Linked DNA regions of Homo sapiens. The protein of the gene in region 2 interacts with the protein of the main gene of each other region in a pairwise test. Each region holds a gene or a part of one and is shown on either strand. Other genes may lie near its edges.

What was found.
Region 1: the proteins of CPT1A (region 2) and CYBA interact in a two-hybrid assay, tested with the Homo sapiens proteins (one large-scale study listed by BioGRID and IntAct).

Annotation. Positions count from the first base shown.
Region 1 is NC_000016.10:88,645,108-88,648,053, forward strand, and holds part of CYBA (cytochrome b-245 light chain), read right to left. Parts: coding exon 2,938-2,946; intron 2,069-2,937; coding exon 1,994-2,068; intron 1,732-1,993; coding exon 1,648-1,731; intron 1,091-1,647; coding exon 1,009-1,090; intron 323-1,008; coding exon of another isoform or gene 59-322; exon of another isoform or gene 1-58. UniProt on the Homo sapiens protein: Subunit of NADPH oxidase complexes that is required for the NADPH oxidase activity that generates, in various cell types, superoxide from molecular oxygen utilizing NADPH as an electron donor.
Region 2 is NC_000011.10:68,775,802-68,779,615, forward strand, and holds part of CPT1A (carnitine O-palmitoyltransferase 1, liver isoform), read right to left. Parts: intron 1-3,814. UniProt on the Homo sapiens protein: Catalyzes the transfer of the acyl group of long-chain fatty acid-CoA conjugates onto carnitine, an essential step for the mitochondrial uptake of long-chain fatty acids and their subsequent beta-oxidation in the mitochondrion.

The DNA.
Region 1 (2,946 bases), on a different chromosome or scaffold from region 2:
CCAGCAATTCCTCTCTGGGTTTAGCACAAGGAATTCCTCCCGAGGTCTCCAGGAGCCACTAGCTGTGCGTGGCAGCAGGGAGACGGGGGGGATGCGGGTGGCCCCCGGAAAACAAAGCAACAGCCCAGATGAGCACTTGGCAACAGGAAGGGGTTCTAAAGGAGAGTTCTGCCGGTGGCAGGTCAGTGAGGCTTGAAACAGAACTCCACTTCCATACGCGGAAGGCGTACACAGAAAGTGCTGCACCTTTCCCACGCACACACACTAGAAGACGCACAGCAAGGGGAGGGCAGTTGCCTCTGCGGGCAGGAGGGACTTGGCTCTATGGACAAAAGGATTTAAATAAGCAAAGTCTGAGGGCTCTGTCCACCCAGAGACCCCCGCAGTGAGAGGTGGCCTGCAGCCGTCTGTTCCGGAGCCCAGGGCAGGCAGAGGGCATTTCACCCAAGGCCTGGCCAGGCTGCGCCCTGTCCTCCCACCCATCCCTGGCCTCTCAGAGAGATCACTGTATCCCATGGGATGGGCAGCCTTCTAACAGGGTGCAGCAGTCATAAACCAAACGCAGGTGTCGGCAGTTTAAGAAAATGTCTGCGTCCTGGCACCGCCCATGAATCAGCGCGAATAGGGTTTAGGTGAGAAAAGCCTGATAATGGGACCCAAGCGCAGGCACGGTCTTCGGCCGGCTGCGTGACCCCAGGCCAGTCACAGCACCTCCCTGAGCCTCCGCATCTTTGTCTGTAAAGTGGGGACCCCAGTACCCCTCCCAGGGCTGTGGTGCGGGTTAATGAGGAAATGCAAGGAAATGACCCGACACACTAGACACGCCAAAAATGGCAGCAGCAACCGCTGCGTCCCCGCCGTGCTGTGAGCACACGCCCAGGCTCACACTTGCTCCCAGCCTTGGCTCAGCCTACAGAGCCGGCTTCAAGGGCCATGCGTGTCCGAGGGTGTCAGGGCAGGGGCTGGGGATGGGGGTGGCCGGGGCCGACCTCAGAGGGCGCCACTCACCAGTAGGTAGATGCCGCTCGCAATGGCCAGGCAGGCGGTCCCAAGGATGGTGGCCAGCAGGAAGCCGGCGGGCACCGAGAGCCTGGGGGACAGCGGGTGAGAGGCAGGGACACAGAAGGGCACTCAGAAAGGGGAACGGAGCCCCAGGTCTGGGGGCCAAGGCCACAAAGTCTCAGGACAAGGCAGACTGCAGACCCAGGGGACGTGCGCGGACCGGGGCTTGTTTCGGTCCTGGGTGTTCTCAGCCTTGATGTGGACACTAGCGGCTCTGGTGCACTTGCTCGGAGGAAGCAGCCACGTGTGGGTGTCCTGGCCTCAGCCGGCAGTAACCAGCAGACACACAGCACGGAACCCTCCACCCTACCAGGAAGCCCAGGCAAGACCCCCCAGCAGTGCATGCTGACCCCAGACCCTGGCGACGGATCGGAGCTCCTCGGATTTGGAGTGGATCCTTACAAATCCTGCACACTAGACAGCAGACACAGGCCCTGCCAGAGCCAGGGACCCGAATTTTTGTTTGGAAAAACACTGAGGTAAGTGGGGGTGGCTCCTGTCCAGGCAGCCCGGCCGGTGGGACAGTGGGGAGGGTCGGCTCCAAGCCCTCCTGAGCCCTAGAGGGGGTGCGGGACGGGGACTCACAGGAGATGCAGGACGGCCCGAACATAGTAATTCCTGGTAAAGGGCCCGAACAGCTTCACCACGGCGGTCATGTACTTCTGTCCCCTGGGGGAGGGAGGAAGGCGAGACGGCGCGGCTGGGCCTCTCCCACTCGGGACTCCTTTGCTGCCCTGCTGACCACCCCAGGGCACCCAGGCCTCTTTCCTCCCACAAAACACACCGGGCAGGCACCGGCCTTGGTTTACCCACAAGCACCAAAGGGTTGGTTCCGGAGCCTCCAAGTGAGAAACCAAGCTCCACCCAACCCTGTGAGCCCTGCCTGGGCCCCGCAGCCCCCGGAGAGACCCCAGAGCAGGAGGAGACTCACCAGCGCTCCATGGTGGAGCCCTTCTTCCTCTTCCCCCGGGGGTACTCCAGCAGGCACACAAACACGCCCGCCACACTGAAGCCATGTGGTTAAGGAACAGCCCAGCTCAGCCTGAGGGGCCACAGGGAACTCCCTTTACTGAAGACAACACAGAGAGGGGCCCGAGCACGGTGGCTCATGCCTGGAATCCCAGCATTTTGGGAGGCTGAGGCGGGAGGATCACTGGAGCCCAGGAGTTTGAGACCAGCCTGGGCAACATAGTGAGACCCTCATCTCTACAAAAAATTTAAAAGCCAGGTGCAGTGGTGTGTGCCTGTGGTCCCAGCTACTCCAGAGGCTGAGGTAAGAGGGTGGCCTGAGCCCAGGTGGAGGCTGCCATGAGTCACAGCTGCACCACTGCACTGCAGCCTGGGGGACAGAGCGAGACCCTGTCTCAAAAAAGGTCGGGGGCAGCCACTGCCTGAGGTCACAGAGCCAGGAGGCAGCCACGGGAGGTTCCAACAGGTCTGGCACTCGGGGCTGCCCACGCCCTCCCTCCCACCACCCTGCCCAGTGCTCCTTGTCGCAAGGTCCGGCTGGGCGGCAGGGCTGAGATGGGGCAGAGGAGGTAGAGGGGCCGGTCAAGGGGGATGACTGACAGGAGCGGGCAGAGGGGATCCCAGCAGTCCAACAGGGAGGCCTCAGTGCTGGCCCTGGCCCTCTGGTGACACCCCCTGCCCACCACTCACCAGGACTTAGACTGGCGGGTCTGCCGCTGATCGCCACATGGTCCTGGCGAGGGGCCTGGCTGCTGGGGCCTGGGCTGCCCAACCCGTGCACAGCCCACCCTGTGTCCCAGCCTGGCTGCGGTGGTGGGGAGCGGAGGCAAACAGCTCACTGTGAAGTGGCTCCCCAGCTCTGCCCTGGGCGTTCCCCGCCCACCCCAGCCTCAGGTGGAAGGATACATGGAGTAG
Region 2 (3,814 bases):
CAGACAAGAATTCTTGCCCTTCCTTAAAAAGTGAAATATACCTGTATGACCCAGCAGTTCCACTCCTAGGTACATACTCACTGAAATGAAATGAATAGATGCTCACACAAAAACTTGTACAGAATGTTCAGAGCAGCATTATTCATAATAGCCAAAGAGTGGAAACAACACAAATGCCCATCAACTGATGAAGAGATAAACAAAGTGTGGTCAATCCATACAATGAGATATTATCCAGCCCTAGAAAGGAATGAATTCCAGGTATGTGTTACAACGTACTGAACCTTGAAAACATTATGCTGAGTGAAAAGAAGCAGGCAGGCGCGGTGCCTCACTTCAGTAATCCCAGCACTTTGGGAGGCCAAGGTGGGAGGATTGCTGGAGGCCAGGAGTTCCAAACCAGCTGGGCAACATAGTGAGATCTTATCTCTACAAGAAATTTTAAAAATTAGCCAGGTGTGGTGGCACATGGCTGTAGTCCCAGTTACTGAGGAGGCTGAGGTGGGAAGATCACCTGAGCCCAGGAGGTCATGGTTTCAATGAGTCATGACTGTGCCACTGCACTCCAGCCTGAGCGACAGAGCAAGACCCTGTCTCTAGAAAAGAAAGAAAAGAAAGCGAAAGAAAAGAAAAAAGAAGCCAGACATAGAAGACCACATATTGTATGATTCTATCTATATAAGATGTCCAAAATAGGCACATACATACACACAGAAAGATTAGTGGTCATCAGGAACCTGGGGGAGAAAGGAATGAGGGATTTCTTTTGGAGGTGATAAAAATAGTACAGAATTAGGCTGGGCTCTGTGACTCACGACTGTAATCCTAGCACTTTGGGAGGCCAAGGCGGGTAGATCACTTTAGGTCAGGAGTTCGAGACCAAGCTGGCCAACAAGGGGAAACCCCGCCTCTACCAAAAATACAAAAATTAGGTGGGTGTGGCGATGCACGCCTGTAATCCCAGCTACTCGGGAGGCTAAGCAGTGACTGTTGCACAAGCACCTCGTGAATATACTAAAAACCACTGAATTGTACACTTTTAAAGGGTGGATTTTAAGGTATGTGACTTATATCTCAACTAAAAAAATTAAGTTTTTTTAAAAGAGGAATCCCTGTGCTCAGGAAGCTTACATTCTAGTGAGGGAGGTAAAAACAACAACACAAGGTCGGGGTGACTGTCGGCTGGCGAGGCGGCGGGGCGGGTGGAAGGTGCCGCTAATACGTGGGGGTCACAATCCAGGCTGACCTGAGCCAGCGAACGAACAGACTTGATCAGGTTCCACCTGCTCTGGGTCAGAGCTCCAGAAGAGCCTGACACAGAAACATCAGAAATAAATCAAGAGCAAGACCGGGTGTGGTGGCTCATGTTAGTAATCCCAGCATGTTGGGAGGCTGAGGCAGGCAGATTGTTTGAAGCCAGGAGTTCGAGACCAGCCTGGGCAATGTGGCAAAACCCCGTCTCTACAAAAAATACAAAAATCAGCTGGGCGTGGTGGCGCACACCTGTGGTCCCAGCTACTCGGGAGGCTGAGGTGGGAAAATTACTTGAACCCAGGAGTTGGAGGTTGCAGTGAGCTGAGATTGCACCACTGCCCTCCAGCCTGGGTGGCAGAGCAAGACCCTGTCTCAAAAAATAAAAAATAAAAATAGAACAAGAACAAGAACAAACAGACTCAAGTTTGACTAGATCTGTCTTTAAGGGACTGCACTGGGCCCCCATGTGAGACTAGGTCAGTCCCCATCTGTGTATGGATCACATAAGCCCCCAGCCAGGGGTCCCTGGAGTCAGGCCATCCTGTCTGCTGGACGCTAACAACTAAACACCACTACTTCTACGTGCCCACCCTGGTCTAAGATAAAATCCCTTTATCCTTATCCAGAGAACTTTAAAAAACAAGCCTGATCTTGTAAATATCCAGTAGATTTCTCTACTTGATAAATGTACCCTGTGTGATCCAGCTGCCTATGGTCCCGACTCTTTTTCTTTTGCCAAACAACAGCTCTTAGGCATATAGGACTCGGGAAGTCCTTGGCCTGGGGTATAACAAGCCCGGGCTATTATGCTGTGCAGAGATTTATTAAAGCGTGCCTTCTTGCTACGTCCAGAGACACTGAAGGCAGCTTGATCTTCAATGCGCTCTGTAGCTAAAAGGCTCTCTCAGCTTTTGTCGACATCGCCAAAGAACCCTGGTGGTGGTGAAAAGCCCTTTTAATATTGGCTGCTTTTTATCAGGTATTAATGTCCTAGGGTCATACTGGTGTCTTAAAGCCTAGAGCACTATGTTTTTTTTTTTCCTTTTTATCCTTTTTCCTACATAGAAAACCTCCCTTGGCTGAAGGAGTGGCTGGAGGTTTTGCCAAGACTCCAACCAGAAGTAAGACAATTAAAAGAGGTAGAGGAAGATGAGACAGGAGCCCCTAACCTAGTCTTGGGAGAGGGTAGCAGGGCAGTGCCATTCCTAGGGGAAGTGAGGTCAGCTGAGACCTAAGGAAGACCTGACGGGGCCAGGAGCCAGGGGAAGCCAGGGGGAAAAGCCTTCCAGGCAGAGAGGAGAGTGAGTGCGAAGACTTTGCAAGAAAAAACTGGCACCAGAATTTGTTTATCTCTTGGGGGAAAAATAGACAGACACAATATTATAAAAAGAAACGTCAAGGCCAGGCGTGGTGGCTCATGCCATAATCCCAGCACTTTGAGAGGCCAAGGCGGGTGGATCACTTGAGGTCAGGTTTATATATATATAAAAATTATCCGGGCATGGTGGCATGTGCCTATAATCCCAGCTACTCGGGAGGCTGAGGCAGGAGAATCACTTGAACCGGGGAGGCAGAGGTGGCAGTGAGCTGAAATCGCACCACTGCACACCAGCCTGGGTGACAGAACAAGACGCCATCTCAAAAAAAAAAGTCAAAATTCAAAACATTCACAGAAGTTTAAAGAAAAAAGAAGGTCATACATTATGATGTCTTCACAAGTTTACTACTAATTTCTTTCTTTTTTTTTTGAGATGGAGTCTCACTCTTTCGTCCAGGCTGGAGTGCAGTGGCGTGATCTCGGCTCACTGCAAGCTCTGCCTCCCGGGTTCACGCCATTCTCCTGCCTCAGCCTCCTGAGTAGCTGGGACTACAGGTGCCAGCCACCACGCCCGGCTAATTTTTGTATTTTTAGTAGAGACGGGGTTTCACCGTGTTAGCCAGGATGGTCTCGTTCTCCTGACCTCGTGATCCGCCTGCCTCGGCCTCCCAAAGGGCTGGGATTACAGGCGTGAGCCACCGCGCCTGGCCACTACTAATTTCTAATTTCAGACACACAAACCCGGCTCCATGCCCTATCAAGAACAGCGAGGTGCTCAGCCTGCAGCTGGGCCCTGTCTCCCACACACGCCGTGACTTTCAGGTCATTTTATTCCACTTCATTTATTAGGCCAGCAGGAAAATTTAAAACACTGCAAAAAGATGGTCTTTATAGTCAATGTGAATCTCAAAGGGGCTTGTTGCTTTAAAAGAAAAAGATCTCAAGTCTCATCACAACAAGTGACCACAGTATTTTCTGTGTCAAGTCTACGGATGATGATCCTAGAATTTAGCAACTTTAAACAAGAACCTGACCGGTGAGTTAAGGAAACAAAACTTTCATTTAATTTCTCATGCCAAACACGGAACAGGTCAAACAGTTCAGAGTAACGAATTATTAAAAAAAAAAAAAAAAAAAAAAGGCTGAGTGTGGTGGCTCCCATCTGTAATCCCAGCACTTTGGGAGGCCCAGGCAGGCAGATCCCCTGTGCCCAGGAGTTCAAGACCAGCCTGGGCAACATGG